Regions from separate parts of the Homo sapiens genome. Here region 1 is linked to region 2. The links come from fine-mapping of genetic effects on gene expression. A gene starts in region 2. The other region holds a variant in brackets. All regions are shown on one strand. Distances are between the middles of the regions.

What was found. PIP is the estimated chance that this variant, and not a neighbour inherited with it, causes the effect. A credible set is the group of variants that fine-mapping cannot tell apart.
Region 1: its variant is the best candidate, but not a certain one, in a credible set for the expression of SEC24C in whole blood (TOPMed, PIP 0.69).

What each region holds. Positions count from the first base shown.
Region 1 is chr10:73,784,271-73,789,641 of GRCh38, forward strand. It overlaps ZSWIM8 (zinc finger SWIM-type containing 8), which reads left to right and starts at 1,336. Exons shown (of 26, transcript NM_001367799.1): 1 at 1,336-1,816; 2 at 4,400-4,553; 3 at 4,826-4,920; 4 at 5,097-5,269. The coding sequence starts at 1,609. RefSeq lists enhancers at 1,096-1,315, 4,288-5,371 and a silencer at 1,436-1,655. The variant C/T (reference allele first, on the strand shown) is at 3,186.
Region 2 is chr10:73,741,361-73,746,731 of GRCh38, forward strand. It overlaps SEC24C (SEC24 homolog C, COPII component), which reads left to right and starts at 3,012. Exons shown (of 23, transcript NM_198597.3): 1 at 3,012-3,077. It overlaps LOC124902453 (a long non-coding RNA gene), which reads right to left and starts at 2,905. Exons shown (of 2, transcript XR_007062195.1): 1 at 2,857-2,905; 2 at 1,604-1,851. RefSeq lists enhancers at 121-688, 2,354-3,553, 2,393-2,960, 2,631-3,060, 2,961-3,527 and 1 more.

The DNA.
Region 1 (5,371 bases), 43 kb after region 2:
CTGAAGGCATTCGCTTTTGTGATTCCCCTGATACTAGGAAAAATTGCATAGCATTTTATGTATACTCTGCCCTTTCAGGCATAATTCAGTTAGCTTTTTTTTTTTTTTTGAGATGGAGTCTCGCTCTGTCGCCCGCGCTAGTGCAGTGGCACGATCTTGGCTCACTGCAAGCTCCGTTTCCCGGGTTCACGCCATTCTCCTGCCTCAGCCTCCCGAGTAGCTGGGACTACAGGCGCCCACCACCACGCCTGGCTAATTCTTTGCATTTTCAGTAGAGACGGGGTTTCACCGTGTTAGCCAGGATGGTCTCGATCTCCTGACCTCGTGATTTGCCCGCCTCAGCCTCCCAAAGTGCTAGGATTACAGGCGTAAGCCACCGCGCCTGGCCTTAGGAGTTCTTAACCTAGGTCAATAGACTCCAGTTAAGACGTCTGTGAACTTGGGGGATAATTTATATTTTTAACTCCAACTGAAATTTAGCATTTCAGTCAGGGCTATGGAAAACAAACCACAGTAACATTATCAAAACCTATATGAAATCATGGTATTTTCATACCATGTTACAGTTGGTTACAAATATCTCAAAAAGCATTTATACTCATCACTAGCTTCAAAATTATGATAGTTACTACGCTTCCTCCTAGATCTTGTCATTTAATGTGTAAATAAAGGAGCACTATTACGTTACAGATTTGTTCTATTAATAGTTTAATAATTGTATTTAAACAACTGGTTTCCTTTGTAATTCTTGGTATTTTGTGCATTTGTAAACGATCTGAGAAGGGGGTCCAGAAACCTACCTAGACTGCTAAAGGGTCCATGGCACAAAAAAAGGTTGAGTTACTAGATCCAAAGGCCGTATGGACAAACAGTACAACCATTTCCTGAAATCAAATGCATTCTTTTCTGATGTTTCCCCAGTTAGACCCTATAAAAAGGTCGGCTGGATTGCAGACTTCTGGACTACGATTCCCAGAAGGTGGTGCGGCCCTGGGGCCTATCCAGAGTTAAGACAATAACTCCATCCAATAGTTGCTGTCCTCTCCTGACAGCCTACAATTCCCAACATGCATGGCGGCTGTTTATGCCTTGGGGACATTATGGACTCCGAGTTGTTGCTGGGATCTGTAGTTGCTTCGTATAACGTTGGGAGTTGGCTTCCTCTTATGATGTCTGAGGGTGGGCTCGAGGGAAAAAAAGCAAATGCAGCCATTAAATAAAAATGTCCCCTACATCCGCCCGTACCCGATCCGGATCCCGAGCGCGCGAGGGCGGAAGTGGTGGTGGCCCGCGCGGCCGGAAGTCCAGATCAGCTGATGGGGGAGGCGGCTCCGCAGCCGCCTAGAGGCCCCAGCCGCCGAGCGCTTCGTCCCGGCCCTAAGTCTCGGAGACTGGCCAAGATCACCGCTTGCACCGCGCTGTTGGGCGAGGCCCGGTCCCGTCTCTTTCCCAGGCCTGAGATTCTCGCCCGGCACGGCCGCCCTGAGCGCCCCGGCCACCCCCAGCCCCGGCTCGCCCCTCAGGCCCCGGGCCTCCCCTCAACCCCCGGCCGGCGGCCCAGGCCCCGGATCCGCGGGGGGGGACCCGGCCCCGGGGGGTGCGGGCCCCATGGAGCTGATGTTTGCAGAGTGGGAGGACGGAGAGCGCTTCTCATTCGAGGATTCGGACCGTTTTGAGGAGGATTCACTCTGTTCCTTCATCTCCGAGGCCGAGAGCCTCTGCCAGAACTGGCGGGGATGGCGCAAACAGTCAGCGGGGCCCAATTCCCCCACTGGCGGCGGTGGCGGAGGTGGCAGTGGCGGTACCAGAATGCGAGGTGAGAGTGAGCTGGGGGGAAGAGGAGCGGCAGGCCCTGCTTGGGCCTCGCTCGGGAGCTGTCCGGGACCAGGAGCTGTCCCCGACCAAGAGCTCTCTTCAACCAGGGGAAGAAAGGGGAGCTGTCCCCGGCCGGGAGCTGTCCCCGACTGGGAGCTGTCCCAAGCTTAGAACAGACTTCAGAACTCGCTTTTCCGGCCTTCCTGGGGTGGGCTGGCTTCTCCACACCTGTGTGTGTGTGGGTGTGTGTGTGTGTGTGTGCGCGCGCGCGCGTGCGCGCGCTGTGACAGGGAGATCCTGTGGACAGAAAGTAAATCTTTCGTCACTCCTTTGCCTTAGAGAGGGGATAAGGGAGAAGAATCTTGTCTTTGACTTGGGAATACTTAAGTGAGTTCAGTCTGAGGCATACCGGAAAGTAGAGGAAGAGAATGTGGGTAGGGGGCTGATTGTGAAGAAGTGACCACTTGTGGCTTGTCACCGCATTGCAAAGTGCATTGGGAGCTTCTTGCTTCGGGGTGATGATCTCTGATCCCAGAAGCACCAAGAAGGGATCCTACCCAGAGGAAAATAGAGGTGAACTGGCCTGCCAGAGAGTCCATAGTTCATAGGTTTAGATCATAGACTTTGCTTCTGGCCATGTCAAATATCTGTCAGAAGCCAAGGCTGGGACTTGCCTGCTGTGCCTTCCTCATGGCACAGTTTTTGTCCTGGTCCTCAGTGGAAGCTGGCTTTTTTCAGCAGTTGAGATGTTTAATTTGTGTGATTCTACTCAGGCCTTTCCAAGAGTCCTGTTTTCCAAACTGGCTTGTGGAGATTTCTGGTGCTCCTTTGGGACAGAGAGAAATTTACATATATCACTTTTTTTTTTTTTTTTTGAGACGGAGTTTTGCTCTTGTTGCCCAGGCTGGAGTGCAATGGCACGATCTCGGCTCACCGCAACCTCCGCCTCCCCAGTTCAAGCGATTCTCCTGCCTCAGCCTCCTGAGTAGCTGGGATTACAGGCATGTGTCACCATGCCCGGCTAATTTTTGTATTTTTAGTGGAGACCGGGTTTCTCCATGTTGGTCAGGCTGGTCTTGAACTCCCGACCTTAGGTGATCTGCGCGCCTCGGCCTCCCGAAGTGCTGGGATTACAGGCGTGAGCCACCGCTCCCGGCATATATATCACTTTTTAGGAGTGGCGGACTGGTGGCATTCAGCTTCAGTTGGAGAGAGGATATGGCCTGTGTACACACACACAAACACACACAGATCATAGGCAGTTTTACCGTGGGTCTTCTGTGGCCTTCTGGCTTCTTTCATATTTGAGTATGTGGGTGGTCTTGGGGCTTAGTGCTCCCTCACTTTGAGGGAAGTAACTGAAGTCATAG[C/T]GATGAAGATTGTTAACATATTGGTATCTTCCTGGTCAGGTTAAAATCTGGGAAAACATGCCATATTACCCCAGTCCCCCGACTTCAGTCACTGACTTGTAAAATAAAGGGGTTGGCCAGGTGCGGTGGCTCGTGCCTGTAATCCCAGTACTTTGGGAGGCCGAGTCGGGTGGATCACTTGTGGTCAGGAGTTTGAGACCAGCTTGGCCAACATGGTGAAACCCCATCTCTACTAAAAATACAAAAGATTCGCTGGGTGTGTTGGCACCCGCTTGTAATCTCAGCTACTTGGGAGGCTGAGGTGGGAGGTAAGTTTGAACCCAGGAGGGAGAGGTTGTGGTGAGCCAAGATGGCACCATTGCACTCCAGCCTGGGTGACAGAGTGAGACTTCATCTCAAAATAAATAAATAAAAATCAAAAAAATAAAATAAAGGGGTTAACTCTTCTAAAAAGGTTCTTTTTAATTCTATGATTTTCTGATCTATTAATGTGACTAGCAATTTTGTGAGATGTAGTTTGTCATGTTATCACTACTTTTTGGTTAAAACACTGTGGAAAACCTTGAGTGGTAACTTTATCTTAGTCCAGGTGATTCCAGTTGCAGCAGTAGCTAGGTGCCCTGCGATAACTCTCTCCCCTTGAGGGTTTCCAGTGTGGGAAGTTGTCATTTAGGCGCGCCAAAAGTGGTCTGGCCTCTCGTGCTTCTTGAGATCCCTTCCGGGCTCTGGTCTATCTTGTCTCCTTAGCTGGGGGCCTACAGTCATCTAGAGTAAAAGGGATGGTTAAAAAAAAAAAAAAAAGGCAATCGGAGACAAGAATGCCAGAGGAGAGACATTAACCATGTAATTTGAATTTAAAATGCTCATGGAATATGGGAAATTCAGTGCTGAGCCATGTGAGCAGGGTTACTTGCTAGGGTCCTGGAACGCACCTGTCTGGCCAGGAGTTTCTTAAGATATCTCTGGTATCTTCTGTTCTAGACCTTAGGTGTAGCCGGCTGTGGGCTGGGGATTATCCAGCTCCCCTTTCCCATATGGAGCCTTAAGGGTTAGTGTATCCTGATAGGGGGATCCCTAGGACTTTCATCCAGGTCTCTTCTTTCTTTCATAGTGAAGATGAGGCCCAGGATGTTGTACTGGCATGAGTGCCAAGAGACCATGGCCCTTTTCATTTCCTATTCTCTTTCCCCTGATCCCAACCATTGTTTGCAAAGATGGACTGGTGATCCCATTGGTGGAGCTGTCAGCAAAGCAGGTGGCATTTCATATCCCATTTGAAGTGGTGGAGAAAGTTTACCCACCAGTGCCTGAGCAGCTACAGCTCCGAATTGCTTTTTGGAGCTTCCCTGAGAATGAAGAGGACATTCGGTGAGGCCAAAGGACTGATGGTGGGGAGCGGGGTCCTGATACTCCACACTGTCTGCTGGGTTTCCCATAGAACAAAGGAGACATTGTATTTGGGGCAGTGGTAAGAGGAAGACAAGGGAGGGATTGCCTGGGATTCCACTCCCTCCCCCCCACCCCCCGCCCTGGGGAAGGAATGAGGCTAGGGAGAGAGTGCCTAGGGCATTGTGGTCTCTGACAGGGTCTGCCAAAGGTTATTTGCTGAGTTGTGGCTGTGTCCTCTTCTTCACCCCCAGGCTGTATTCGTGCCTGGCCAATGGCAGTGCGGATGAGTTTCAGCGAGGGGATCAGCTCTTCCGCATGCGGGCTGTGAAGGACCCATTGCAGATAGGTGAGTGGGCCATCATGCCATGTGGCACATCCTGCTCCTCCCATCCCCTGGCTTATGAAGTAAGAACACACCGCAAGAAGCTGGAGCATGTTGTCTGAATAACTGCAGGGCCAGGGTCAAGGGCAGAGACCCAGGTCCTGACAGCACTCCCTGACCATGCCCCCATTTCTCCCCAGGGTTCCACCTGAGTGCTACAGTGGTGCCACCTCAGATGGTCCCTCCTAAAGGGGCCTACAACGTGGCTGTGATGTTTGACCGCTGCCGGGTCACTTCCTGCAGCTGTACCTGTGGGGCTGGGGCCAAATGGTGCACCCACGTCGTGGCACTCTGTCTCTTCCGCATCCACAACGTGAGGCCCTCCCAATTTATCCCGGCCCTATCCTACACTCCATCCCCCCCTTCTCTGCTGCATGCCTGGCTACAATGTGAGCCCCCTCGCCTCGCCTACTCT
Region 2 (5,371 bases):
AGGCAGAGGGTGAAGTGAGCCAAGATCATGCTACTGCACTCCAGCCTGGGTGACAGAGACCTTGTCTCAAATAGAAAAAAAAAAAGGTGGGGGGAGGGGGAAGAAAGAAACTGAATCTAGGATCTACCACTTATCAGGGGTGCAACCTTTTTTTTAAGATGGAGTGTTGCCCTGTGTCCCAGGCTGGAGTGCAGTGGTGCAATCTTGGTTCACTGCAACCTCCGTCCCCTGGGTTCAAGCGATTCTCCTTCCTCAGCCTCCTGAGTAGTTGGGATTACAGGCATGTGCCACGACATCCAGCTAATTTTTGTATTTTTAGCAGAGACAGGGTTGGCCAGGCTGCTCTCAAACTCCTGACTTCAGGTGATCCGCCTGTCTCGGCCTCCCAAAGTGCTAGGATTACAGGCATGAGCCACCATGCCCGGCCCTAGTGGGTGCAACCTTAAGCAAGACAGAGGATATTTACTTTCCTATATCGATATGAGTCAAGTGGGATGAATCATGTGAAAATGCTTAGCAGAGGACCAGTTTAGGTCAGGTGCTCAACATATCTTAGTTGAATTTGGCAAATTATTCATCTAGACTAGTGGTTCTCAATCAGCAATGGAATCACCTGGAGGGCCTTAAACCATAGCTTGCTGGGCCCCACCTCCAGAATTTCTGGCTCTTATCTATGTAAAGCGGGTCTGAAATTTGCATTTCAAGCAAGTTTCCAGGTGTTACTGATACTGCTGATCTGAGGATCACACTTAACCACTGACTATAAACTGATAGGTCAGGTGTGGTGGCTTCACACCTGTAATCTCAGCAATTTGGAAGGCTAAGGTGGGAGGAATTTGAGACCACCCTGGGCAACACAGGGAGACCTCACCTCTACAAAAAATTAGCCAGATGTGGGGGCACATACCTGTAGCCCTAGCTACTCAACTACCCAGCTACTCCTACTGAGGTAGGAGGACCACTTGAGCCCAGCCTGAGCAACATAGCAAAATCGTCTCTAAAACAAAACAGGCTGGGCGCAGTGGCTCACACCTGTAATCCCAGCACTTTGGGAGGCCAAGGGGGGCGGATCACAACGTCAGGAGATCAAGACCATCCTGGCCAATATAGTGAAACCCTGTCTATACCAAACATACAAAGATTAGCTGGGGTGGTGGCGCATGCCTGTAATCCCAGCTACTCGGGAGTCTGAGGCATAAGAATCGCTTGAAACCAGGAGGCGGAAGTTGCAGTGAGCCAAGATTGGGCCACTGCACTCCGGCCTGGAGACAGAGCAAGACTGTCACAAAACAAAACAGAGGACAAGAACAATCTGCTTGTTTAGTAAAGCATGCTCAATGCCTAATATATAGTTTCCAGCACAGCCTAAAGTGCAAATTTTTCAGTGAATAAACCACTCTGTGCCTCAGAATAACTGATATTTACTGTCAATAATATGAGAACAAACACTTTTGTTCACTGCTCTATTTCCAGACCCAAGAACATGGCTTGGCACACAATGTCAGCGCTCAGTGGGTTCACCCTGCCTGCTGCCTTGACAAAGCTGATTTATCAAGACCAGGGAATTGCAATGGAGAAAGAGTAATTCACGCAGAGCCAGCTGTGTGGGAGACCAGAGTTTTATTATTACACAAATTAGTCTCCCTGAGCATTTGAGGATCAGAGTTCTTAAAGATAATTTGGCGAGTAGGAGCTTGGGAAGCGGGGAGTGCTGATTGGTCAGGTTGAAGACGGAATCACAGGGAGTCAAAGTGAGGTTTTCTTGCTGTTTTCTGTTCCTGGGTGGAATGGCAGAACTGATTGAGCCAGGTTACTGGTCTAGGTAGTCAGCTGATCCAATGAGTGCAGGGTCTGCAAAACATCTCAAGCACTAATCTTAGGTTTTACAATAGTTATGTTATTCCTAAAAGCAATTTGGGGAGGTTCAGACTCTTGGAGCGAGAGGCTGCATGTCCCCTAAACTGTAATTTGTAATCTTGTAGCTAATTTGTTAGTCCTGTAAAGACAGACTGGTCCCCAGGCAAGAAGGGGGTCTTTTCGGGAAGGGGCTATTATCAATTTTGTTTCAAACCATAAACTGAATTCCTCCCCAAAGTTAGTTCCACCTACACCCAGGAATGAATAAGGACAGCTTAAAGGTTAGAAGCAAGATGGAGTCGGTTAAGTCTGATTTCTTCCACTATCATAATTTCCTCAGTTGTAATTTTGCAAAGGCAGTTTCAACAGCAGTGCTCGAAAAATTATGAAATCAACAAATAGTACTGAAAAGTTCAAATGAAGTCATATATGAAAAAGAAATCCTAGCACTGTTAGCTATAATTACTTAGCCATTAAATGGGGTACTAATAATTACTGCAGGAACTATCTTTTCCAACAGAGCGCAGAGATCTTTTGGCTCTGATAAAGCTCTGCACCTAAACAAAGGCGCTGTATAAAAATGGTTAATAACAATTGACCTTTACTGAGTGCTTACTATGATGCCAAGCGGCCTATGTGGCCTAATTTCATCCTCTGGGCATTATTATTTCCATTTTACAAGCTGTAGAGCCAGACCTCAGACCCCCACATGCAGGTTGACAACAGTTGGTGCCCTTTACCACCACCACACGTTCCGCAAATCTCATAACCAGCAAACGCCATGGGTGAGAGCAACCTAGCGGACGGAAATCAACGGGGTCAGGGGTCACCAGGAAGTGACTACAAGACTCTAGCTCAGAGGTCACTAATACGTCACAGGCAGAGTGAAGGGGCATTATTAAAGATAGTTTGACAAATTCTTTTTAATCTCATTTCTGTTGGTGAGGCCATAAAGTGACTGGAACATCTGAAAAAAAATGTCAGGAGGGAAATACATACGACTCAGCAGAGGCGCACAGGCGGCGGCCATGATGGGAAGATGAAAGAGGCGCATGCGCGGCATCCGGGTCCCCGAAATGCAGACGTGGCAGAAGAAGTGGCCCGGCCCTAAAGCGTGGAGGAGGAACTTCCGGGGGTGACGGGACGGCCCCCTCGGAACCGGAAGTGGAGCCTGGGAGCCTTGACGTTAGGAACGAAGTCTAACCTGGATCTGGAGCCGGGTGAGGAGTGGCATCGGGAGGTTGGCGGGTAGGAAAGCAAAGGAGAGGTCAGGGTATTACTGGCCAGATTGGGGTCCGGTTTCAGAAAGAAGGGAGGAGCCTGGGGGCGGGGCCTGGGTAGAGACCCTCACCTCACGCATCCACCATCCAGGAGCAGGTCCTAGACCATCCCTTCGTCTCCCGGCCCAGATTCCGGCTCCTGCTTCCTGCCCCGAGCCTGTTAAAAGGTGCAAGACGTTTGGTCTCTGTGCTTAACAGAGCAGCCCCCTCTCTTAACGTGGCCCTAGAAGCCGACTTGGCTTCTCGGTTTTGATCCTCGGCTCTCCGAGGCTCCATGGCTTGACTACTTTCAGAGTTCTAGGAAGCTTGCCCCGCCCCCTTGGGTTGTCACCCTCGACTATCCACCCAGAATGGAGTCGAGACTTCAGTCTGACTCCAAGCTCTTGAATGTGTTTGAGGGGATTATTTTCTGGAGAAGAAGCTCCTTTCTTTACCCCTCCCCCCGGCTTTGGAAACATAAAGGGAGAGGACATATTTTAAACTTAGTGTCAGTGACCTACCTCTGTAAGGTTTAGGGTTTGGAAGAACAGCTATTGAGATAACTTTGAGTTTAAAGAGTTTTAGACCAGGATCAGCTCCTTTTCTATAGTCAAGGTGGCCCTTCTAGCAAAGGGGGAGAGGTCCATTGTTCCCTTTGCAGCAACTCTGAGTGCTCCTGCTTTCTGGGCCCCTTCTGTCTACAGGATAATTGGAATGATACAGCTGTTGAAAGTAGATGTGATGAGATAGTTTTCTTGGAAGGACCCTGTTTAGAAAAGGCCCTCTAATTCATCCCTGTGTTGATGAGCAAGATTGTAATAATTTTGATGGTGGCTGAGATTCATAACAATCGTAAGGGGAGCAGAAACAGGAGAGTTGGAGAAGTGCATTGGAATTTAGAATATTCATAGTCTTCTGCTTGAGGGATGAGGTGAATGATTTTTTTCCATGAAATCTAACTCTAACTTTGCCCCTGATTCTTGAACTGTTTCCTCAGATTATGTGAAGAAGTTTTGGTGCCTGTTCTGCACTTGGTTTTAATCTGTTACCTTGCTAGAGTTTTCAGGTGTCCTTTATTTTTTATTTTTTTGAAAGGGCGTCTTGCTCTATTGCTCAGGCTGGAGTGCAGTGGCACGATCTCGGCTTATTGCAATCTCCGCCTCCCGGGTTCAAGCGATTTCTCCTGCCTCAGCCTCCCAAGTAGCTGGGATTACAGGCGTGTGCCACCATGCCCGGCTAGTTTTTGTATTTTTAGTAGAGACTGGGTTTCACCGTGTTGGCCAGGCTGGTCATGAACTCCTGACCTCAAGTGATCTGCCCGACTTGGCCTTCCAAAGTGCTGGGATTACAGGCATGAGCCACTGTGCCTGGCCAACTTTTATTGATTTTAATGCTTCGGTTTTGGCCGGGCGTGGTGGCTCACACCTGTGATCCCAGCACTTTGGGAGGCCAAGGTGGGTGGATCACGAGGTCAGGAGATCGAGACCAGCCTGGCTAACAGGGTGAAAACCTGTCTCTACTAAAAATACAAAAACTAGCTGGGTGTGGTGGCACGCGCCTGTAATCCCAGCTACTCGGGAGGCTGAGGCAGGAGAATCGTTTGAACCCAGGAGGTGAAGGTTGCAGTGAGCCGAGATCGCGCCACTGCACTCCAGCCTGGCAACAGAGTGAGACTCCGTCTCAAAAAAAAAAAAAAAAAAAAAAAACCTTCAGTTTTAAGGTCCATACACTCTTTTGGTGGAAAGACTTGGGTTGGAGTATCATTTGTATTATGGCAGTTTAGCTAAAGAATGTCATTTCTGTAACTCAGCCTAAATTTTGTCATTGAGGGGGAAGGATTTTAGCAGATCTGTTTTAGATTTTTAGCCTGATTGATTTTAAATCAATTGTTCAGCACACTAGAGGGTACTCGATGTTTGCTGAATGAATGGATGCTAGAGTGAATGAATGGAAAGTGGGAACATTGTTTCTTTCACCTGTAACATCAAGGTAGTTCATCAGCCACAAGACTGTGTGACTAGACACTAGAAATCATACCACTGGGGAATGGAGGCTGCTGCTCCATTTCAGTGGATCTGTCTGAAGTTGAAATTTATACTATTTAGACAGTGACAAAGGGTGGATGGTCAGAATAACAAAATCCTTGCTTTTAGGAGATAATCTGAATGCTGGCTGGGGCAGAAAATTACTAAGATCCTGTGGAAGTGTGAGGATTATTAAACTGATCACTGTCTGATAAGGTCAATTTCTTTTTA